Regions from separate parts of the Homo sapiens genome. Here all the other regions are linked to region 2. The links come from fine-mapping of genetic effects on gene expression. A gene starts in region 2. Each other region holds a variant in brackets. All regions are shown on one strand. Distances are from middle to middle.

Region 1 (8,177 bases), 68 kb before region 2:
CCAGGCGTGGTGGTAGGCGCCTGTAATCCCAGCTACTCGGGAGGCTGAGGCAGAGAATCGCTTGAACCCGGGAGGCGGCGGTTGTAGTGAGACAAGATCACACCACTGCACTCCAGCCTGGGTGACAGAGCAAGACTCCGTCTCAAAAAAAAAAAAAAAAGTCCATACATGGCTAGTAGCTACCATTCTGGAGTGCAATTCTATAGAATTCCTGCTAATTAAGCACCGGGAGCTTAAAGGCAGGAGGCAGGGATGTGACTCTCACAGGCCCAAGAGGAGCCAGATCATCCCAGTGCGGCTGGAAGCTCCCATGCTATACCCCATCTCTCCCGCACCCCAACGCAGCTTACCTGGGGAATTGGAGCAGGACTCAGGCCCAAACTCACACCTCTAGTCAACTCAAATCCTGACTCTACCACTTCCAGGCTACACAGGTCACTTCTCTGAACCTCAGCTTCCGCATCTGTAAAATGGAATCTTTTTTTTTTTTTTTTTTTTTTTTTTTTTTTTTTTTTTTGAGACAGAGTCTCACTCTGTCGCCAGGCTGGAGTGCAGTAGTGCGATCTTGGCTCACTGCAACCTCTGCTTCCCAGGTTCAAGCAATTCTCCTGTCTCAACCTCCCGAATAGCTAGGATTATAGGCACCCACCACCACACCTGGCTAATTTTTGTATTTTTAGTACAGACAGGGTTTCACCATCTTGGCCAGGCTGGTACTGAACTCCTGACCTCGTGATCCACCCTCCTCGGCCTCCCAAAGTGCTGGGATTACAGGTGTGAACCACCGTGCCCAGCCTGTAGAATGGAATCTTAACACCAATCTGCCCAAGCACATGTTTATGTTATCTCAAAAGATAATTTTTGCAGGCCAGGTGCAGTGATTCACGCCTGTAATCCCAGCACTTTGGGAGGCTGAGGGATGTGGATCACTGGAGCCCAAAAGTTCAAGATCAGCCTGAGCAAAATAGGGAGACTCCCATCTCTACTGAAAATTGTTTTAAAAAAATTAGCCAGGTATGATGGTGCATGCCTGTAGTCCCAGCTACTCAGAAGGCTGAGGTGGGAGGACCACTTGAGCCAGTGAGGTCAAGGCTGCAATCAGCCATGATGGTGCCACTGCATTCCAGCCTGGGTGACAGAGCCAGACCCTGTCTCAAAAAAATAATGAAAAATTTAAAAAGATGATTTTTCTGATAACCATGGGTTGTCCTGGGGACCCAATGAGATGGCTTCACACACAGCTGGGGACAGGGCCAGTGCTTGAAAAATAGGTGGCAATTACATAAAGGACTCTGACATCAGGGGCCGTCCTGAGCCTGTCAGAGCCATGCAGTGGCAGCTAATGTTACTGCTGTCACTACTTGGTTCTAAAGGAATCATCCCAATAATTTCCAACATGCCCCTACTAACTTTTTGAAAATATCATCTAAATGAAAACACACAGCTAAAAAGAGTCAATGCCCTGCAGACACCTCCTCCCACCCGCCAAGGCCTTCGGACACCAGTTTGAGAAGCTGGGCTCTAGGGCGCCCTGTCTCCAAAGCAGAATATGGTCTGCTTTCTCCATCCCTGGCTGCCACCTGAATCCAGCCAGCTCTCTCCCACACAGGTCCCTCCCCACCCACCTGTGTCCCTTCTCTTTGGGGATAAAGCCCTGGATCCCCATCATAGCCCAGGCCCTGAGCCCTGCCACCCTGCTCTCTCCCCCTCACCCACTCCCCCGGCTCCAGCTACATGGGCCTGCTGTTCCACCAGCACATCCAGATATCGCCTTCCTTGCGGCCTTTACCTGGCTGCACCCCGTCCAGCCCACTTCCTCGGGCTCTCACATCACAGGGGCTCCTCAGCAGCCTTCCCAAGCCCCTCTCCCACCCAGTCCAGCTAGATCTCTGTTCCCTCCTTCAGCCACACCAAGCACTCACAGGCCAATGCAACCTCTCTGCCACCTCCGATCGCATCCAGAACTACACGTGGCACATAGAAGTGATTCAATCAATATTTGGAGACAGATGGAACACACAAATGACCAAGAACAGCCAAAGGCTGGCTCCTGAGGCTGTTCAGCAATCAGGCCCCTAGGGCAGTGGGGAGGGGGTGCCTCCCATCCTCATCTCTTCCCCCTGGGCCCCCCTTGGGAGGGGCCAAGGTCATGGTATTGGGGGTGGAGAGAAGCAGCCACACCCCACATCCCAAGCAGGCATGGAATGGAGTCATTTCTGGATTACTGAGGCCTACTTTGTGCCAGCTCTGTCTAGGAGAAGAGAAAGCAGAAAAGAAATCATGATGACAACAGTGACAACTCCAGTCATAGCAGGCAGGGCAAGAAGATGAGGCTGTCTTCAAAAGGCAGCTTCGCCGACAGAGCAGGGTTCAACCATCATGCCTATTACTGACTTCCAGCAAATCCAATAACCTCTCTATGCCCGTTTCCTCCCCTGTACAACGGGGACGATCGGGACAGCGAGCTGCCAGGCTGTGGTGAGGATGAGTGAGAGCAGACACCTTAAGCTCTGCAGCAGTGCCCAGCACTGAGAGGCGAACTACTCACGAGAATGACCCCAATATTCTATGTGGCTTCCTGGGCCTCAGTTTCCTATCTACGAGATGGGAGTGCTAACACTGCCCACCTCCCAGGCTGCTGTGCAGGTTTGTAGAGCTAATATGCAGCGTCTGGTTGGGCAGGAGTACAGTGGTGGGAGTGATTCACATTCCTGTCTGGAGCCCTCCCATCAGCTAACAGGCCCTACCACTCTCTCCCAAGGACCAACAACGAGCCTGTGCCCACTGCCCTGCAGAGCCCCTTCTGTGCTCTCAGGTGCCCTCAGTCCTGTCTGGCAATCACCAGGAGTAGCATCAGCCCAAATTCATCCCGCCGCCTCCTCAGGAGGCCTGTGCTTTCCAACGCAGCAGCTCCGTGCATCCTCCCCACCGCCCCACTCAGCAGGAAGGTTCCCGTTTACAGCTGAGCAAAATGCACCTTAGGGAGAAGAAATAAGGCCCCAGAGCTCCACAGCCACCGAGAGGGGTGCCAAGAGCAGGGTTCTCACCCACGTCAGCTACCCCCGGGACCAGGTCACTCAGCAGCCCCAGCTGGGTAAGTGTACACCAAAAACCCACCAGACCATGAAGAACTTGAAGCCAGGCTGGAGAAGAGAAC[C/T]GGGGAGCGGCAACTGCCCCAGCCCATTCGGAAAGGGCCCACAAAGTGGCAAACCGAGGAAGACTTGGGTTTCTGGCCTCACCCTTAGAAACAACATCTGCGAACGAGCTTCTCCAGCAGGACGGCTGGGCTGAAGAAACTCCTGCTGGGACCTCTGACATGCAGTCTCCTCTTGGCCGACCCGGCTTGCTGTCCCTCGCTCGGCACAGTCAGAGCACCTGGGCCCTGCTGTGGGTGCCGAGTTGGCAGTGGGTCCTGCCCCAAGGGGGCCAGGCTGAGCTCCCACCCAGCGCCCCTCCCACACTCACTCCCTCCCTCCTGGTCCTGCTCCCAGGCTGTCTCCCCCAGCTGGGCCTCTCGCTGCTTGGCTGGCTGTCCAGAAGAGCCTGCCATGGAACCACCCCACCGTGCGGCCCGGAGGCCTGTGGTTGAGGGCCTTCCGCTGAGAGCTCTGGGAAGCTGAAGAGAGGCCCGGGGAGGGGTGACCCTGGGTCCTCCAGGGGCTTGGAGCTCAAGTCTGAAAGACACTCCTTTCCATCCCAACCCATCCCGGGGGCCTTCTGGAGACCCTAGTGGTTTGTTCTGAGGGGTTCTGCTCCTTCTAGGAAGATACCCTGGAACACACCTCAAAAAAAAAAAAAAAAGCCAGAGCGCCTGCTCCCGCACCAAGCCTTAGGGGTGAGCCCATGGGTGGGATCAGAAGTCACACTCACCAGGGGCTACTGAGCTGTGGTGGGGGAATCTCTGGAAGCCCAGATTCATAGCCTGTCCCCAACACTTCCTGGTTGGGGGACTCAGCACAAGCTACAGAGGCTCTCCAGGCTTCAGTTCTCACCACTTGTAAAGCGGGAATCAGAGAAGATTCCTCCTGGGTCTAATGGGTCTTCACCCAGATCCTCCCATGGCTCCCTCACAGCACTCCAGTCCCTACCCACACGTCACCTCCTCAGGGAGGTCCTCCCTGATCACCCAGCTATAGTGGAGAAACATGCCCACACTCTCAACCTGGCCCTCATTTATTTTGCCTTCGTAATATCAACCACACCTGAGCCCAACCAGAGACCTGGGTGCTGGGCGCCAGTCACAAGCCCTGGTCTTTCCAATTCCAGAGGAGCACTGGGAATGGCGCAGGCCTACAGGCCCACGGCAGCGTGGACGCAGGGTCAGCGGGTGCTGTCTGTATCAGGTGTGACTGCTGCCCTGCGTTGCTATTCAGTATTAGTCCGGCTGGTTGGGTTGGGGAGGAATGGGCAGAGAAATCAGCCCAATGAGCCTCCCCTCCTCTTTCCCTAAAAGTAACAGCCACGGGCTCTGGAGAACACGGTGTGAAAACCACAGGAGGGAGGCAACCCTCAGGCCTTTGCTGGCTGTAAGGCAGTGATGCTACTGGAGGGGAAGTGGGAGGCCTGTGAAACGCCCTGCTCCGCTCAGTCAAATCTACCCACGCCCCCAGGCAGGAGCCTGTGACCGGCTCCTGGGTCACCTGCTAACACCCTGAATCTGACCAGGCTGTTCCTGCTGAAATTCCAAACTCCTTCACAGACAGTCCACAAGGCTCCCAGTGAAAGGGCCCTGCCTGCCCCGCAGCCCCAGGACTCATCTCCTCCCTGCTCCCTCGCTCTGCCAAGCCACACAGGCCTCCGTGAGGCTTGTCCCTGCACCTCACCAAGCTCTGTCCTCCCTTCAGACCTTTGCACTGTGGTTCCCTCCACCTGGAGGGCTGTTCCTTCTCCTCCCATCCCACATGACTGCCTCACCTTGCCAAACTGGGATCAGCTCAGAGGCCCTCCCCACAGCCGCATGCATCTAAAGAAGTGCCCAGTCTGTCACCTGATTTGAATTCGCTGCCTAGCTCCTCCCCCTCTAACCGGCTCCTTGCTTATTAACCTGTTTCGGGTTGGTCTTGCTTAGCCCCACAAGGATAGGGACTTTGGCAAGTACACTGCTGTATTCCCAGTACTGATGCAACGCTGGCACATACGAGGTGTTCAGTAAATGGTGGCGGATGAGTGAAACCTTTTCCTCGGCTCCACAATACCCTTAGGATCCATCCTCACCTCTCACCCAGGCCCACAGGCCAGTGCAGCACAGCCCCTGCCAACCCCTGCAGGCACTTCTGCTGCTCCCCCTGCCCAGGCCCAGCCTTCCTGCCACTCCCAGAGCTGTGAGCTGTGGTGGGCTGGGAACCAGGGGCAGTGGCATGCACCTACGGTCCCAGCTACTCAGGAGACTGAGGCAGGAGGATCACTTGAGCCCAGGAGTTCAAGACTAGCCTGAGCAACATAGCGAGACTCCCGTTTCCACAAAAAATTTAAAAATTAGCTAGGCATGGTGGCATGCACCTGTAGTCCCAGCTACTCAAGAGGATGAGGTGGAAGGATCACTAAAGCCTAGGAGGTCAAGCCTGCAGTGAGCTGTGATCACACCACTGCACTCCAGCCTGGGTGACAGAGGGAGGCCCTGTCTCAAAAGAAAAAAAAAAACAAGCACAGAGCCTGACCTCTGAAAAGACTCCAGTGTGTCTACCTTGGAGGCGCTCAGGGCTGCAAAGCCACTGCGTGGAAGAGGAGTGGGCCCGGGAGCTGCCCTTGTCAGTTCTGACTTGATTGCATGTCTCCCCCGACCTCTGTTTCTGCATCTGTAAAACTGAGATGCTAATTTCAGCCCTGATCTCCTCCTAGTGCTCTCTGACACGGTTCTGTGAACTGGCAAAGGCCTTCAAAGTCCCGGCAGAAATACTAAGAATTACAATTGCTAAGACAGACCAACAGCTCACCATGTGTCGGGCACTGTTCTTAGTGAGGAGACATTTCCGGTAGGCTTATTGTATGCCAGAACAGTTATGAATGCTTCCCACAAATTAATCCACTCAGCCTTCACAATAATCCTATCAGGTGGGAATTATCATCATCCCCATGGCACCGATGATGAAATGAGCTCACAAGGGTTGGGGAGCCTGCTCAAGGTCACACAGCCATGGAGTGGCACGGCTGGATTTGAACCCTGTGCTCTCACTCGCTTCCATACACCTCTTTACAGAGGCTGGAAACCAGAACATTGAAGTTCTGGATCCTAGCTGGGCCAGGCTGGGGAGCTGGATCCCGGAATGCTCGAGGGGACCAAAAGTAGGGGGTGGGGGAGGCTGGATGCCTCCGTTCCATAACATAATCATGACTGCCAACCAAGACTTACACAGTACCAGGCACCATTCTAGGAGCTTCTCGTGGATTAATTCATTTAATCCTCACAACAGCCCAAGGTGGACGTCCTTCTGAGACCACTGTATGGGAGTGAACAGTGTGGTCCAAGGTCGCAGAGCTAGAACCGACTTCACCGTCCTGCTGCTAGCTAACGCAGGTCCCTGGTAGCTGTGTCACCCCCTGCATGGCTCTCTTGCTGTCTTCTTCTCCCAGCACACACCTGCCCAGGGTTAAAGGATGCCTTGCCTCCACTCTGAGGAGGGACCAAGAAATGCTGGACTGGCTGTAGGCAGAGATGCTCAGGGCAGCCTGAGGCTCAGGGGTAAGAGGAAGGAAAGACATAGGACAGTCACCTCTATAGGTAGAGGACAGAGGACAGAGGTGACTCTATCCTATGTCTTTCCTTCCTTTCACCCAGCCTGGAACCTGGTGAGCAAGGAATGCATGGCACTAGGGGCTCAGTGACCTGGGTTCAAATCCTACCCTGGCACCCATAGGGTCTGATAAGATGCGGTGGAAGGCAATTCTTCCTCTGAACTTCAATTTCGGACTCTGCAAAAAAGGACACAAATACCATATAAAGCCCAAAGCACAGGGCTGGGCAGAGTATATGCTCACAGACAAAAGCCACTCCTCCAGTTTCTCCTTGACAAGACGATCTGAGGCCAAGGTTGGCCAAGGGCTCACATCACACCTCTCCCACTTCAGCTATGAGACCTCTGGGAAATCTTTGCACTTCACAGTGAGTGAAATGATTCCTCATCTGTAAAATGGTATCACACTTCTAACTAGCTCGTAGCTCTCCATAAAATAGGCCTAACCACAGGTATGTTTTGAGACTTAAGTGAGATCACATGTACAAAAGCCCTGTCACACGCCTGGCATGGGGTGAATGCTATAAACACTGGGCATCCACTAGCTCTGGAAATGATCTGCCTCTCTGAGATGCTGTTTTCTCATCTAAAAGGGAGAGCATAACAACAGCGCCTACCGCTCTAGAATTCAAGTATTCAGCAAGTTTATCTATATGAAGCATTCCAAACAGTGTGTGGCCCACAGAATGCACTCAGTTACTGTCAGCCATCAATTTCATGATTACTGTTTTCACTGCCACTGTTAGCCCCATCAGGCAAACCCTCTAAAAGCTGGCAGGAGAGGACCAGAGGAACAAACCCCTAGTGGAGAAAGATTCTACAGAGTCGCCGCTGCCTCACAGACTGTGGGACCTTTCTCTCCAGGAACCACGAGCCACGGAAGCCAGTCAGCTTGGAAGTCACTGCTGCGGACTAGGGGCAACCATCTGCCCCCTCTGACCACATCACCAGCCCAGGTCTGCTGGGTCAATCAGGGACTGCAGCCAGTCCTCTGGGAACTCCAGACCCAGAGCAAAGGCTACAGGGCAAGCCAAGGTCATGATCTGGCCTAGGGAGCAGGGACACTGGCCACAGACCTCTGGGGCTGGCTGCTCCCAGCACCAGCCCACAGACCACAATAAGACACCAGATCCATGGGGGATCTGACTGTCCCAAGCCCTTCAGAGCAGCCTTCCTCCCTGGGCCAGGCTGGGCCAGGGGCACCCCCACTCCAAGTCCCCTTGGCCTATGCAAAGAGGAACAGCTGGGAAAACAGCTCCCGGCCTCACTGCAAGGCCAACTGTTACTGCCTTGGTGGGGAGTGTAAACATGATGTGTGACCGAGCTGGTAACTGGGAGACACAAACAGCTTCGTGGCCAGCGACAGAGGAGCATGTAGTGGTCTGCGTTGGTTCCTGGACCCTTCACATCCACTGCCAACCAAGTTCAGCCCACGAGTGAACTCCT
Region 2 (8,177 bases):
CCTGTGCCTGGAATGCCTGTCTCCTCCTGGCAACCTATCCTTCCTTCTGCTCCACTGCCATCTACTTTGTGACACTTTCCCTAAGTCCCCACATATGAGACTCTCTTCTCTATCCTCACTAGGGTTAATCTTGCCCTTCTCTGGCTTCTGCTCAATTTTTTTTTTTTTTTTTTGAGACAAAGTCTTGCTCTGTCGCCCAGGCTGGAGTGCAGTGGCGCGATCTCGGCTCACTGCAACCTTCGCCTCCTGGGTTCAAGCGGTTCTCCTGCCTCAGCCTCCCGAGCAGCTGGGACCACAGGCACTCGCCACCACACCCAGCTAATTTTTGTATTTTTAGTACAGATGGGGTTTCACCATGTTGGCCAGGCTAGTCTCGAACTCCTGACCTCAAGTGATCTGCCCACATCAGTTTCCCAAAGTGCTGGGATTACAGGCACCTGGCCTTCTGCTCAATCTCTTATTGATGAGTATGACCACAGACATCACTCTGTCCTGTACTCAACACTCTTAGATCCAATTTCCCTCCTGAATTTTACCACTGGCCAAAGACAATACAGGCCAGGAGCAGTGGCTCGTGCCTGTAATCCCAGCACTTTGGGAGGTCGAGGCAGGTGGATCACCTGAGGTCAGGAGTTTGAGACCAGCCTGGCCAACATGGTGAAACCCCATCTCTACTAAAAATACAAAAATTAGTCGGGCATGGTGGTGGGCGCCTGTAATCCCAGCTACTCGGCAGGCTGAGGCAGGAGAATCGCTTGAACCCGGGAGGCAGAGGCTGCAGTGGGCCGAGATCACACCACTGCACTCTAGCCTGAGTGACAGAGCAAGACTCTGTCTCAAAAAATAATAATGAAATAAAATACAGTACAACATGCATCTCTCAAAGAACAGCACGGAGAGGTCTCAGTAAGTCAGACAGAACATCTCACAAACCAAGCACTAACTATGCATCAGGACCAGCGCCAAGCATCATGCAGATGCATCCCAACAGCTCAGCAAGTGAGGACTATTATTAGCCCTGTTTTTATCGATGAAAAACCCCGACTCATTGAGGTGCAGTCGTTTGTCAAATGGCACATCTAGCAACTGACCTTACTGGGATTCAAAAACAAGTTCTTCCTGATTCTGACGTCCAGGGAATAGGTCCCATTGAGTGCTTACTATGTACCAGGAACTGAGCATATACACATCTCAGTCGCTCCTCACAACCACCCTCGGAAAGTTACAGATGAGAATGGCAGGTCCAAGATCACACAGCAAAAGGCTGGGCACAGTGGCTCAGGCCTGTCATCCCAGCACTTTAGGGTCAGGAGGATCCCTTGAGCCTAGGAGTTCAAGATCATATAGCAAGTAAAGGAAGCAGCAGGACTTGGACCCCACGCAGTCCAATGGCTATGGTTCATGCTGATTGAGGGATTACTACCAGCCAGGTACTATGGTCTGTTTTTCAATGTCTCAGTTAATGCTAACCAGAATCCTTTAAGTACTGGTATTCTCCCCCAAGTGCTACAGACCCTACTGAATTCAATTTCCTCTCTCCACAATCTTAAAAGCCCATCTCCAGCACTGACTTTCCGAATAGTGAAAATTATAATAGTGATTTTAAAGACAGCAGCTCCCAAAACTCAAGGGATTACCACATACCAGACTCCATGTGCTAAGCCCTTAGAAGACCTGTATCCAAATCCCAATTTTACCACGTCCTAATCCTGACTCTGGACAAGTAGCTTAACCTTTCTGACCTCACTTCCCTCAACTGCACAATAAGAATGGTAAGGCCGGGTACAGTAACTCACACCTGTAGTCCCAGCACTTTGGGAGGCCGAAGCAGGAGGATCTCTGGAGCCCAGGATTTTGAGGCCAGCCTGGGCAATATAGCGAGACCCTGTCACTGTTAAAAAAAAAAAAAAAAAAAAAAAAACTGGGCGTGGTGGCTCACGCCTGTAATCACAGCACTTTGGGAGGCTGAGGCGGGTGGATCACCTGAGGTCAGGAGTTCGAGACCAGCCTGGCCAATATGGTGAAACCCCATCTCTACTAAAAATACAAAAATTAGCCAGGCATGGTGGTGTATGCCTGTAATCCAAGCTACTCAGTAGGCTAAGGTGGGAGAATCGCTTCAACCCGGGGCGGGGGGGGGAGAGGTTGCAGTGAGCCAAGATTACGCCACTTCACTCCAGCCTGGGCAACAGAGCAAGACTCAGTCTCAAAAAAAAAAAAAAAAAAAGGAAAGGTGGCTGGGCGCAGTGGCTCATGCCTGTAATCCCAACGCTTTGGGAGGCCAAGGCAGTGGATCACAAGGTCAGGAGTTTGAGACCAGCCTGGCCAACATGGCGAAACTCCGCCTCTACTAAAAATACAAAAAATTAGCTGGGCATGGTGGCAGGCACCTGTAATCCCAGCTACTCGGGAGGCTGAGGCAGGAGAATCACTTGAACCCAGGAGGCAGAGGTTGCAGTGAGCCGAAACTGTACCACTACACTCCAGCCTGGGCAACAGAGTGAGACTCCATCTCAAAAAAAAAAAAAAAAGTAAGATTACCAATTCTTGGCCAGCACCTTGGGAGGCTGAGGCAGGTGGATAACCTGAGGTCAGGAATTCAAGACCAGCCTGGCCAACATAGTGAAACCCCTCTCTACTAAAAATACAAAAATTAGCCAGGCGTGGTGGTGGGCACCTGTAATCCTAGCTACTCAGGAGGCTGAGGCAGGAGAATTGCTTAAGCCCGGGAGGCAGAGGTTGCAGTGATCCAAGATCGCACCACTGCACTCCAGCCTGGGCAACAGAGCGAGACCTTGTCTCAAATAAATAAATAAATAAATAAATAAATAAATAAATAAATAAATAATAAAAATAAAAAAACACCATCTTAAAAAAAAAAAAAGAGGACCCTTTTTTTTTTTTGAGATGAAGTCCCACTCTGTCGCCCAGGCTGGAGTGCAGTGGCGTGATCTCGTCTCACTGCAACCTCTGCCTCCCAGGTTCAAGCAATTATCCTGCCTCAGCCTCCCAAGTAGCTGGGATTACAGGCCCCCACCACCATGCCCGGCTAATTTTCTGTAGTTTTAGTAGAGACGGGGTTTCACCGTGTTAGCCAGGATGGTCTCTATCTCCTGACCTCGTGATCCGCCCGTCTCGGCCTCCCAAAGTGCTAGGATTACAGGCGTGAGCCACCACGCCCAGCCAAGGACCCATTCTTAAAGGTGTTACAAGGATTAAACGAGTTAATAAACAGAGTCCTTAGAACAAAGATGCACGGCAGGTGGTTAAGTGCGATGTTAAGTGTGCATCAAATAAAACAAATCTTCAGTAAGCTAGGGAAACAGTGGGACAGTCACTGACTTAATGCTAGTTTTATACAAAGTGTGAGCTGGGAACAAGTATAAGGACAACTTAATGGGGGTCCATGGGATCTGACAACAGGGAATCACACAGTACAGGTTCTGAACAGTATCCCTATTCAAAGGGAATACGTAGTATTCCTTTTCAATTATCTTTCCATTTCAGTGTACAATGTAATGGGCTGTTCAGTTTCCATTGTATTTTACCTGAACTTTTCCTTCCTCTCATGGCCAGCAATGCTAGTTTTCCATTGAAGACAGCAATGCGCCGGGCACGGTGGCTCACACCTGTAATCCCAGCACTTTGGGAGGCAGAGGCGGGCAGATCACCTGAAGTCAGAAGTTCGAGACCAGCCTGACCAACATGCAGAAACCCCGTCTCTACTAAAATACAAAAAAAATTAGCCGGGCGTGGTGGCGCATGCCTGTAATCCCAGCTACTCGGAAGGTTGAGGCAGGAGAATCCCTTGAACCCAGGAAGCGGAGGTTGCGGTGAGACGAAATTGCACCATTGCACTCCAGCCTGGGCAACAAGAGCGAAACTCCGTCTCAAAGAAAAAAAAAAGAAGAAGACAGCAATGCAAATTTGCCTTCTCAAATTAACTTACTGGGGAAAAAAATGCACTAGTCATTATCAAGAAAAAGAAAAAAACTAGTACTTCAGGACTCAGCAAAATTGGTCAAATAGTAAGTGACAGGATGTCGATTTCCCCGGCTCCAATTCTAAGTTTTTCCTATTGCTGTCTCTGAGCTTTCTCCCCCAGCTTCCCTGGAATTCCCAGCTACACCAATGACTCTCAGAATCATTATCATTATAGTCCCAATCCACGAGCTCTCACTGTGCCAGCCCCTCTGCTTAAAATCTTTACACACACAGATTTCATCAGAATCCTCAAGACGACCCTATGATATTGGGACTATCTGCTCTCATTGTACAGATGAGAAAAAACGGGGTTCAAGGAAGCGAAGACACAGGCCCCACTGCCGCACAGTGGAGCGGGACTTGAACCAAAATTCGACGGCTTCCAAACCCAACAATTTTTCATACTAAGCGCTCAAACATCAATACTAATAATAATAGTATAGTAACGAAGTGAGCGTTATGCGGAGGCGCTGAGCTAAGGCATCCAACGTACACGACCTGACTTCTCACTCCCATTTATAAAGCCGGTGATACAGTCGGATTCTAACCCCCATTCCACAGGGGAGGAAACTGAGGCTCAAAGAAACAAATCGTAAGTCCGAAGCCGTACAACGGAGCCCGAACTGAGTCCAGACACCCGGACGCCACCCGTCCCTACCGCAACCGGCCCAGTCCCACCACCCCCGGCCCGCGCCTCACCTGGCCCACCGGGCCCGCGCCCACTCGCGCCGCCCGCCCTCCCTCCCGGCGGCGCCAACTGTCAGACACTCCTCCCCCGGCCCGGGCTGCCCGCCCCGGAAGCATCCTCTCACCGCCGGAAGCTGAACTGACTCGTCCGCGGCCGCTCTACCCCAACAGGCCGCCACCAGCGAGAGTGCGGCCATAACCATCACGTGACCGCCCACCGACACCAGCGAGAGTGCAGTCGTAACCGTCACGTGACCGCCCACCGTCGGCCCGGCGCTCCCCTCCGCCCGAAGCTAGCAAGCGGCGCGGCCAATGAGAAAGGCGCATGCCTGGCCCCCGCCGGCCTGCAGTCTAGCCGTAGTGCGCCTGCGCGCGGCTAGGAGGGGCCGTCAGGCGGGGATACAGCCTGGAAGGTGCGTGTGGGGCTGGGTCTCGGAGTGGGAGACGTGGAGTGCAGGTACTGTGCGATCTGGGGGCGCGGCGCCTCGGCTACCCTCCTCGTGTTGTCTTCCACGCTATAATGCATGGAATATAATATATATTATATGGAATATAATATATGGAATATAATATATATAATTATAGCGTTGTCTTCCACGCTATAATTTATGTCGTCCTCGGTCTCTTTATGTCACCATTCCTCTCCTTCTGTCTCATCCCACTTAAATCCTCACAACTCCTTCTGTCGCCATCACCCTCTTTAAATCCTCACAACTCCTCTTGTTGTCATCAACGCCCTTAACTCGCTTTCGTTCCCTGTAAGCCCTCTTTGCCACCATAGGTCGTAATCGCTCCCTTTAAATTCGTCATCGCCATATGTTACCTGCATCCTGCTTTTGTTGCCATTTCTCCTTTATAAAATCCTCATTTCTCTTTAAACCCTCATCATACCCCCAAGTCACCTTCGCATGGCTACTGTCCCCATCGCTCTTCTTAAATCGCGCTAATGCAACTCTTACGTCATCATTACCCCTTGTGTCTTTGTCCCTCCCTTGGCATCACTGTTCCTCTGACCAGTCACCATCCACTCCTCATGCTTCCAGTTTTCCCCATAAGGAGCCACCCAGCCTTACAGTTATTTTTCTTCCCTCCGTGTCTTCGTCATTTCCCCGTGTCACATCTCACATAACATACGGGGTACTGCAGCCCATTACCTGGGGTGTGTCAGAATCCCAGCCCCACCACTACACCTCTGGATACCTTGACTGCCTTATGGCACCTTTCCAATCCCAGCTTCATCTGCAAAATGCACACGGGGACATCCACATCAGGGCTGAGTGTGACGATTCTGTGAGTTTATTCTTGTGGTAGGCTCAGCTTGACATGGTGTTTTTGGCTAATATTGTTATTAACCATGTCACCCTCGGCCGGGTGCGGTGGCTCATGCCTGTAATCCCAGCACTTTAGGAGGCCAAGGTGGGCGGATCACCTGATGTCGGGAGTTCGAGACCAGCCTGATCAACATGGAGAAACCCCGTCTCTACTAAAAATACAAAATTAGCCGGGCGTGGTGGTGCATGCCTATAATCCCAGCTACTCGGGAGGCTGAGGCAGGAGAATGGCTTGAACCGGGGAGGTGGAGGTTGCAGTGAGCCGAGATCGCGCCATTGCACTCCAGCCTGGGCAACAAGAGCGAGACTCCGTCTCAAAAAAAAATAATAATAATAGGCCAGGCGCGGTGGCTCACGCCTGTAATCCCAGCACTTTGGGAGGCCGAGGCGGGCGGATCACCTCAGGTCGGAAGTTCGAGACCAGCCTGACCAACATGGAGAAACCCCATCTCTATTAAAAATACAAAATTAGCCAGGCATGGTGGCACATGCCTGTAATCCCAGCTACTCGGGAGGCTGAGACAGGAGAATCGTTCGAATCTGAGAGGCGGAGGTTGCAGTGAGCCTAGATCGTGCCATTGCACTGTAGCCTGGGCAACAAGAGCGAGACTCCGTCTCAAAAAAAAAAAAAAAAAAAAAAACTGCATGATCTTGGGCAACTAACTTAACCTCCCAGCGCCTCAGTTACTGCATCTGCAATATGGGAATGAAAACACAAATTAATCATTCTGCACATAATTCTTAAGCATGTACTATATATGTGCCCAACACTGCTAGACACTGGGGATACCTCAATGAACAATACAGACAAAAATATCTCGGCCTGGCGCAATGGCTCACACCTGTAATCCAAGCACTTTGGGAGGTGAAGTGGGTGGATCACCTGAGACCAGGAGTTTGAGACCAGCCTGGACAACATGGTGAAGCCCCATCTCTACTAAAAATGCAAAAATTAGCCAGGCATGGTGGCGCGCCCCTAAAATCTGAGCAACTCGGGAGGCTGAGGTGAGAGGATTGCTTGAACCCAGGAGGCGGAGGCTGCAGTGAGTTGAGATCGCACCACTGCACTCCAGCCTGGGTGACAGAGTGAGACCCCATCTCAAAAAAAAAAAAAAAATCTGGCCTTATGGACTGTGTACTACACTCTAGTGGGGGTAAGAGGCAATGGGTAAATAGGTAAGTAGATTATTGGATGTATTAGAAGGGGCATGGGGAATGTGGGGTCAAGGTTATAGTTTTAAATAGGGTGGTCAGGGAAAGCTTTCTGAGAAGGTGACATTTGAAACAAATACTTGAAGGAGAAGAGAGAGTAGGGCTGGGCACGGTGGCTCACGCCTGTGATCACAGCACTTTGGGAGGCTGAGGAAGGTGGATCGCTGGAGCTCAGGAGTTTGAGATCAGCCTGGGCAACATAGCGAAACCCCATCTCTACAAAAATTAGCCAGGTATGGTGGTGTGCGCCTGTGGTCCCAGCTACTTGGGAGGCTGAGAGGTGGGGGGATCGCTTGAGCCTGGGAGTTCGAGGCTGCAGTGAGCCATGATTTTGCCAATACACTCCAGCCTGGGCAACAGACGGAGACCCTGTCTCAAAACAAAAAAACAAAACAAAACAAAAAAACGGCCAGGCGTAGTGGCTCATGCCTATAATCCCAGCACTTTGGGAGGCCAAGGCTGGCAGATCACCTGAGGTCAGGAGTTCGAGACCAGCCTGACTAACATGGTGAAACCTCGTCTCTACTAAAATTACAAAAAATTAGGCAGGCATAGTGGCAGACACCTGTAATCCCAGCTATTCAGGAGGCTGAGGCAGGAGAATCGCTTGAACCAGGGAGGCGGAGGTTGCAGTGAACTGAGATTGCGCCATTGCACTCCAGCCTGGGCGACAGCGAGATTCTGTCTCAAAAAAAGAGAGAGAGAAAGAAAGAGTGACATGGCCCTCTGGGGGAACAGCATGCTGGGCAAAGAGAACAGCAAAAGCAAAAGTCTTGCGGTAGGAGCAAGCTTGGAATATTTAAGGAATAGCAAGGAGGTCAGTGAGAGAGGAGAGGGGCAAGAGACGACATTGGAGGGGTGATGGGGCACATCGTGGAAGGCCTTGTGAGCCATGCAGAAGGCTGGCTTTTACTCCCAGTGAGGTGGGTGCCACAGGAGGATGTGGAGCCGAGGAGGGATGCG
Region 3 (8,177 bases), 960 kb after region 2:
TGCTCGGAACCCCCCAGGGGCCAGCACCTACAATAAGAACAGCAACATCCCTGGCTCAAGCGCCAATACCAGCACCCCCACCGTCAGCAGCTACAGCCCTCCACAGGTGAGAGAATGAGTGTGTGTTTGTATGTAGTGATCGCACGTGTGCTTTTGAACCTGAGCAAGTTAGGTGGAGGCGGATCTGGGGAAATCAACACATGCCCCAGCTACTGGTCTTCACTCTAACCTCTAGCCTGCCCTTCTTTCTCCCTGGCCGTGATCTTGACTCAGATGGACCCTACACATTCCCAGATCCCCTCCAAACCCAGGAGTAAATGTAGACCTTCCCAGAACCTGCTCTTCTCCCACCACCCTCAAGGGGATGGGCTGTAAGCACTGATCCCTCCAGCAAGTACATTATTCTTGGCTAGTGTCACTAACCTCACTAAATCCCCAAGAAAGCACTTGACTGGAGTCACCCCTTGCCCAGGCTGGCTGACCTCTTTGTCTTTTGGACATAATAACCAGGGCACTAAGGTTGCTGAGGACTTGCCCTCTGCACAGAGAGCTTCAATCCTGAGCAGCTCCAGGCTCAGTTCCCATTCTTGGAAAGCCAGTGCCCTGGCTCTGGTATGCACAGGCTCCTGTAAACCAGAGAGGTTTTCAGTTATCGCACAGCCATTTCCCAAGCACTTTCCTCATGCCGGGCCTGGAATCAGCTGCCAGGAGACCAATGGATGGTTCCCAGGCCCAGCTAACTAGAATATTTCTTAGAACAAGAGTTGGGCAGGCACAGATCCAAACCCCCAGCCCCACAACATCCTGTTTCTGTGAGCTTGGACAAATAGCTTCCCGTCTCTGGGCCTCATTTTCCTCATAAAGGTGTTAGTAGAAGTCCCTTCCAAGGTTTGTTGTGAGGAATGGGTGGCACTATAGCTCTGGGACTAGGCAGACCTGGGGTCAAGTCCTTTTTCCTTGGCCCAGAAATTTCATCTTGAGCCTCAGTTTCTTTCTCTTTAAAATGGGGCTAGTGGGACCTACCCCTAGGTTCTATATGGAGATTATATGATGTAATGATCCAACCTGTACTTGGGAAGCACTTAGTCAATTGCCACTACTGTTTCTCAGCAGATCTTCCAGTAACAACTACCACCACCTGTTGAGTACCCAGTGGTTTATACACACAAGCTTATTGGATACCCAGGGCAAGCTAAAGGAGTTGTTCTTGTTCTATTGTGATTCTCATTTTATAAAAAAGAAAACTGAGATTTCAAGAAGTGCCGTGTACCTTGCTCCCTGGGGGTCTCAGAGCTGGGGTTAGAGTCCACATCACAGCCCTGGGGCTTGCCCTTCATCCTGCCCTACCATGGCATGGAGCTGGCTCTCCTCCTTCTCAGCCCACAAACAATGTCCACTAGGCAAGGGAAGGGCCCCTGTGGGCCAACCACTTAAAAAGGCCCTTTTTCCATCCCAGCATTTCACATCTGCAGATTTCCTCTATTTCACAGAGCTTTGGCTTTTTTCCCTCCACTTTCCAGCCGAGTTACAGCCAGCCACCCTACAACCAGGGAGGTTACAGCCAGGGCTACACAGCCCCACCGCCTCCACCTCCACCACCACCTGCCTACAACTATGGGAGCTACGGCGGTTACAACCCGGCCCCCTATACCCCACCGCCACCCCCCACTGCACAGACCTACCCTCAGCCCAGCTATAACCAGTATCAGCAGGTAGGTGCCAGACTGGGGGCCAACTGGATGGAGAGACTTCCATGGGCCCCTCCTGGGTGTGTATTCCCAGACTTAAGTCCCTGCTTATCCCTAAAAAGACAGCCTGCTGGCCTCGGCCTGGCGTTCATCTGGTGCAGCCATTCCATTTGGTCAACACTTCTGCACTGGTTGCTAGGTAATTGGTATCCTAGCCCCCTCCACAGTCTAGCAAGTGAAGGGGAAGGGCTGGCCTAAGTACCAGGGGCCTCAGAGTCCTCTTTCAGCACCATAGACAGGGGGCTCCAAATCCTGCTGCAGGTTGGTGCCCAGGCCCCCATACCTGTTACTAAATCTTTTGACTATGATATCTAGCTATACCCAAAAGGCACTGGGTTGACAAGCTGAGACCTGGGCTTCAGTCCCTAACTGCCTACCTGTGTGGTGTCAGGTCTTTCCAAGGTGCCTTGATTTCTCTGTCAGGGGACCTGTGTTCAACTGTTGTCACTGCAGCTGTCTCTGCCCTAGGTGAGGGTGGGGCTGGTGGGGAGGCTAAATGTGTGGTGGATGCAGGACAACTTGGTGTTCTTGGTTTCTTTCCCCAGTATGCCCAGCAGTGGAACCAGTACTATCAGAACCAGGGCCAGTGGCCGCCATACTACGGGAACTACGACTACGGGAGCTACTCCGGGAACACACAGGGTGGCACAAGTACACAGTAGCCAGTGTGACCCAGAGGCTCCCGGAGGCCCCTGCCGGCTTCCTCCACCAGCGCCTGCCTCGGCCCCTCCTCTGCCCCCGCCAGATCCCGTGGTGCTGGGGATGGGGTCATCCCAGGGCTGCCTCCCTCCAGCCCACTGCCTCCCCTCTGAGGGGCTTCCTTCCCCTCCATAGGGCCAGGCATTTTTTTCTGGATTCAAACAGGCAACAATGACCTTTTATTTTCTGTTTGTCCCCACCTCCCCAGCCTTCCACCTCCTGTTCTTCCTACCTTCTTCCTTTTTGACTAAATAATCCCCACCTCCCTTGATCATACAGTGAGGCTACAGTGACTGAGGGGAGAATCCCCTCCTGTTCACTCTCCCAACCCTGCTCCAGCCCCTCAGCTTCCCAGACCCTCATGCAGTTGGTTGTAAATTCTCCCAGGAGCTGTTTTACTGTCTACTTTTCAGGATTAAAAAAAAAATCAAAACTTAAAAAAAAAAAAGTTTAAAAAGCAAAATGGGGAGGGGGAGGAAGCAGTGACTTTTTTTTGGTAATTATGCGCTTTTTTTTAATTTTTAGAATTTGTCTTTTTACTGTGGGTGGGCTGTTGATATTTCATCAAGATAAGCATTTCTTTCCTGAGTTCAGGTGACTGAGGAAGAGCCACAAAACAAAACACAACAAAACCAAACCACAGAATCATCTTTAACCCAACTTTTTATACGATGCCCCAGTTCCCCATAACTTTGCACACAAGCTTCTGTGTTCAGTTGAATTGTAACTGCTTTTTGTATTTGGAGAGAGTGACTATTGAACTTGAAACCTTTTATTCCGGGCGTCTTGGTAGTTTCTGGTGGGATTCAGTGGGTGAGAGGGAAGAAGGGGAGGTTGGGGGGCTCCTTCCCTTCAGAACTTGAAGTTTCTCCCACTGCCTCCTCTCCAGTGGTCTCCCAGGTGCCAGACCCAAAAGCTTTTCCTACAGTGATACCCTTTATTTTTACTTCCCCTTGACTCATATGTTTTAACATGATTTTAACAAACTGCACTTATTAAGAAATGTGTTTGCCCTGTTTTGTTTGGTTTCGTTTTGTTTTCTTTGAATAAATGACATGGCACCTCCTAGCAGGAAGGAAGCAGGGTTGAAACCCTGAAGTGTTACTGCAGTTGGCCGTTAATTGGGGTGGGGGCCTCTTTAAAGGGAAATTATTTACTCATTCATTAAACAACTTAACTGAGGGATTCATGTGCCTGGCCCCGATTTTGGTGCTAAAAATGCACGCTTAAACAAGGGTCCCTGGTTTAAAATCCACTAGTTCATTTTTAAAGTGCTTCTCTTGTTCTCTACCTCTCACAGTCT[A/G]AAATCCCTCCAGGAGTTTTTGAGTAAAGGACATGGAACAGGCCTCTAGGTGGAGGGATGGGTGGGACTGATGGGGCAGAGACCAGGGCTGGTTTGTTTGGCATCATCACTGGGCATCCACAGACCACCTGCCTCAGGCCTGGCCTGTGTGCAGCACGGAGGACAGTTCCTGCCTGTTCTGTGTTTGGGGCTCATGGGGATTCCAGGAGCTTCATGTTTCAGCCAGTGTGTGTGAGCCACCTGCTGTGTTCTTCAGCTGTCCTGGACAGTGCTGGGGACATAGTATGGCCACGGCAGTCCTGGACCCCGTTCTCACAGAGCTCCCACTCCAGAGAGAACAAAGACCTGCCAGCACCAAGTGGTCAGCTGTGAGAGCCTGGGGTGGTGTGCAGGGAGGGCTTCCTGGAGGAGTGAGCCAGGGTAAAAGACTCCAGATTGCATCCCCATGGCCCATCTTCCCCTTCCTTAGCAACCTTATGTCTTCGTTCCCTCATACATGCTGTGTTCCTGGCTCCTTGTGAGAGACAATGCTGGGCCACAGGAGAAGCCAATTCAGCCCCAATCTTCCCTGGTGGGAGCTCAGAGCCTTGTGAAGGGGAGATGGGCAACAAAAACAAGGGAGGGAAACTGACTAGTCTCAGAATCTCGGGTAGGGCATCAGAACGTGAGAAGGAACCAAGGTTGGTGGCTAAAAGGGACCCTAGAATGCGCCAGAGAGGAGGTGGCAGGGCCTTTAGTCTGGAAAGTCCCCTTCCCTTCATGTCCATATGCTGGGCTACAGCGCCCTCTGCTGGCCTCTCCTGGTAATGCCTAGGAATCTGGGTTGGTAAATAGGGACCTCCTTGGCTTTCTTCCACAACTCCAGACCTCAAGGGAATGCAAATGGGGAAGCTCTTCCTCTGTTCTCAGCCAGTTTTTCTCACACGTCTCATCTCCAGTCCCTTGATGCCCACTCCCTTCAGAATAAAGGAGGTCAAGCCACTTACTATGGCTTATGAGGCCCTGCATGGCCTAGCACCTGGTAACATCGCTGGCGCCCTCTCTTTCTGCTCCCCCTTTGAATATCAAATCAGTGTTTATTTTGTTCTGAGGAGCCATAAGTCCTTTTTGGAACCCACAAATGATGCCATGAACCACTGCATTGGAGAATACAGAGGTACATGGAATTTTGCATAAAAATTCATGAGGTTCTCAAAACCTCCACAGCCCAATCATGGCTTTCAAGTTAGAGCTCCTTTCCTATGCCCTGACCGTAGTGAAGTGCTTGCAGCAACCAGAACCGTCCGTACGTGCCATCCTCCTCAAGACTCTTCCCTACCTTCCTCTTAACCCAGCTCCTACTCGTTCTTCAGGTCTTAGCTTGAGGGTACCCTCCCAGAAAGAAGGCTTCCTTGACCCTCCAGCCTGGGGTGGACAGCTCCCTCAGCCCTCTGGATCCATCAAAGCCCTGGCCACTGAGTGACATGTCTGTCTACTCTGCTGGTAACACCTAAATAGAGCCCCACCCATCCCATAGGGAAATAAGGACCAGAGTTGTCTTGTTTCACACCTGTAGATTTCCTCCAGGTCCTGGGAACACAAAATGGGAAGTTCTATCTCACTATCCATCTCATGCCAGCCAGAGACAGGGTATGATGACGGAAGTAAGCCAGGCTGGTGGCTCACGCGCGTAATCCCAGCATTTTGAGAGGCTGAAGCGGGAGGATTGCTTGAGGCCAGGAGTTGGGGACTAGCCTGGGCAACAAAGTGGGACCCCTGGCTCTACAAAAAAATTTTAAAAATTAGCCGGGCGCGGTTGTGCGCGCCTGTAGTCCCAAGTACTCCAAAGGCTGAGGCAGGAGGATCACTTGAGCACAGGAATGTGAGGTTACTTGAACTGTGATCGCGCCACTGCATTCGTCTAGGCGACAAAGCGAGACCCTGTCTCAAAAAAAAAAAAAAAAAAAAGAGTCAAGGCTTAGTAATATTCCTGAATTCCTGAAGGAGTTAAGAAAGGAAAAGGACAAGCGGGGGTCTAAACGAGAGCACGAACCCTCAGCGTATGACGGCTCCAGGCTCCGGGGGAAAGTCCTTTAGCCATCCATCCCAAAATTAAGCACGCTGGGAGCTGGAGTCACAGCAGTGATAAAACGAACAATGATTCTGGTTCCTACTGACTGACAGGAGAGGTTTAAGGGTCTCTCACTCTCCGGGGAGCCCCTTTCCTTCCTGGCTGCGGAGGGCGGAGCCCGAGAGAGGCACGCATGCGCAATGCAACGTCTGCCTTAGGCCCGGAACTTCGGTGCCTGGGCGCAGCGGTGCACCCGGACCCGGAACATTCTCAGGCGAAAGTGTCTCTTGCGTGCGTGGGCCGGAGGTTAGTGTGCGGGGCCCGCCGGGCGGTTGAAAAGTCCGAGAGAATCAGGATGGAGGCCGTGGCGACGGCGACGGCGGCGAAGGAACCCGATAAGGGTGAGATCTTGGTCACGCGCAGGCGGCGGGTGGGTGCGGTTGCGGTGTCTCTAGGAAATGATTCCCCCAGGAACGCGAAGTAGGACTCGTTTTAGGGGGACACCCACCCCCCTCAGCTTTACCGGTCCTCTTCACTACTTTGCCCAGATTATTCCCTCCCTTGTCGCGGGCTGACCTTCTTTTCCTCCATTCCTTCCCCCCGAAATTAACCTCTTCCCAGTTCCAGACCAATCCTTTCCATGTCCCTAATTCATTTCCTTACCAGGCTAACTCTCAAATTAACAGAAACCTCTCTACCCCGGCCTAATTCCTGCATTGCCTCAGACCAGCCCTTCTCAAATTACCTCCTTCCCTGTACCAAGCTGAGCCTTCCCTTGCTCTCTAGACGAATCCTCCTACCTTTCCAGGCTAAACTTCTACCTGCCTCATGCAAACTTATCCCAATCTAACGATTCCTTCATTTCATTGTAACTCCCGTTTCCCCCAAAGTCCGAAATCCAGCCAGGCTCCTTTCAAAGTCCTTACTCAATTTCTGTGCTTTCCCACAACCTTCAAAGTAATCCGACGTCGGGTGAGGTGTGATTGGAAGCGTGGCTCCAACACCACTGGCCAAGAATTGGTAATTGTGGAAGCCAGATGGAGATGATTGGTATATGGAGGTAGGGGGAGAATTGTCGTTGTACTTTCTACTTTTGTGTATGTTTGAAATTTTCTAAAAATAAAAAATTTAACCTAAAAAAAGTCTTAAGGCCGGGTGCAGTGGCTCCCGCTTGTAATCCCAACACTTTGGGAGGCCAAGGCAGGAGAGTTGCTTGAGCCCAAGAGTTTGAGACCAGCCTGGGCAAGAGAGAGAAACCTGATCTCTATAAACATTTAAAAATTAGCCAGGCCTGGTGGCTAGGGAGTAGCTAGGACAAGCTACTCAGGAGACTAAGGTGGGAGTGTCACTCGAATCCTTTGAGATTGCAGTGACCTAAGATTATTACACCACTGCACTCCAGCCTCTGCAGCAGAGTGAGACTTGAGCCCAGGAGTTTGAGACCAGCACTGGCAACATAGCCAGACCCCATCTCTACAAAAAATTTAAAAATTAAGGCCGGGCCCGGTGGCTTACACCTGTAATCGCAGCACTTTGGAAGGCGGAGGCAGGAAGATCACCTCAGGTCAGGAGTTGGAGACCAGCCTAGCCAACATAGCGAAACCCCATCTCTACTAAAAATACAAATATTAGCCAGGCGTCGTGGTATGTGCCTGTAATCCCAGCTACTCGGGAGGCTGAGGCACCAACTGGAATCACTTGAACCCGGGAGGCGGAGGTTGCAGTGAGCAGAGATCGCACCACTGTACTCCAGTCTGGGTAACAGAGCAAAACTCTGTCTCAAAAAAAAAAAAATTAGCCAGGTTTGATGGTGCATTCCTGTGGTCCCGGCTACTCAGGAGTCTGAGGCGGGAGGATCACTTGAGCCCAGGAGGTCAAAGCTGCAGTGAGCTGTGTTTGCACTATTGCATTGCAGTCTGAGCAACAGAGCAAGACCCTGTTTCAAAAAAAAGAAAAAAAATTTGTCTCTTGGCCCCATCTGTCTCCTTCAGAGAGTCATGTATACTTGGTCTTCATTTCCTCGTCTCCTGCTCACGACTGTCTGACTTTTCTCCTAAGAAACTGCTCTGATTAGGGTCTGCACTGACTTCCCCCATGTTGTTCAATTCAGTCCCCCCATTCAGGTTTTTGTTTGTTTGTTTGTTTTTTGAGAGAGTCTCACTCTGTTGCCCAGGCTGGAGTGCAGTGGCATGATCTCAGCTCACTGCAACCTCCACCTCCCAGGTTCAAGTGATTCCCGTGCCTCAGCCTCCCAAGTAGCTGGGATCACAGGTGCCCGCCACTATGCCTGTCTAATTTTGTATATTTTTAGTAGAGATGGGGTTTCACCATGTTGGCCAGGCTGGCCTCGAACTTCTGACCTCAAGAGATCCTCCTG

The links. PIP is the estimated chance that this variant, and not a neighbour inherited with it, causes the effect.
Region 1: its variant is fine-mapped to the expression of PLD3 in whole blood (TOPMed, PIP above 0.99).
Region 3: its variant is fine-mapped to the expression of PLD3 in adrenal gland (GTEx, PIP 0.92).

The regions. Positions count from the first base shown.
Region 1 is chr19:40,275,868-40,284,044 of GRCh38, forward strand. The region is part of intron 1 of AKT2 (AKT serine/threonine kinase 2); the gene reads right to left. It overlaps MIR641 (microRNA 641), which reads right to left and starts at 6,774; the gene lies at 6,676-6,774. RefSeq lists enhancers at 4,672-4,721, 4,762-4,881. The variant C/T (reference allele first, on the strand shown) is at 3,158.
Region 2 is chr19:40,343,641-40,351,817 of GRCh38, forward strand. PLD3 (phospholipase D family member 3) reads left to right here and starts at 5,055. Exons shown (of 13, transcript NM_012268.4): 1 at 5,055-5,128. C19orf47 (chromosome 19 open reading frame 47) reads right to left here and starts at 4,757. Exons shown (of 9, transcript NM_001256441.2): 1 at 4,684-4,757. RefSeq lists a silencer at 4,632-4,721 and an enhancer at 4,712-5,001.
Region 3 is chr19:41,304,156-41,312,332 of GRCh38, forward strand. It overlaps HNRNPUL1 (heterogeneous nuclear ribonucleoprotein U like 1), which reads left to right. Exons shown (of 15, transcript NM_007040.6): 13 at 1-106; 14 at 1,521-1,712; 15 at 2,294-3,632. The coding sequence ends at 2,410. It overlaps CCDC97 (coiled-coil domain containing 97), which reads left to right and starts at 6,017. Exons shown (of 5, transcript NM_052848.3): 1 at 6,017-6,201. The coding sequence starts at 6,156. LOC105372401 (a long non-coding RNA gene) reads right to left here and starts at 5,894. Exons shown (of 2, transcript XR_935968.4): 1 at 5,783-5,894; 2 at 3,384-5,670. RefSeq lists enhancers at 4,610-4,789, 6,063-6,352. The variant A/G (reference allele first, on the strand shown) is at 3,751.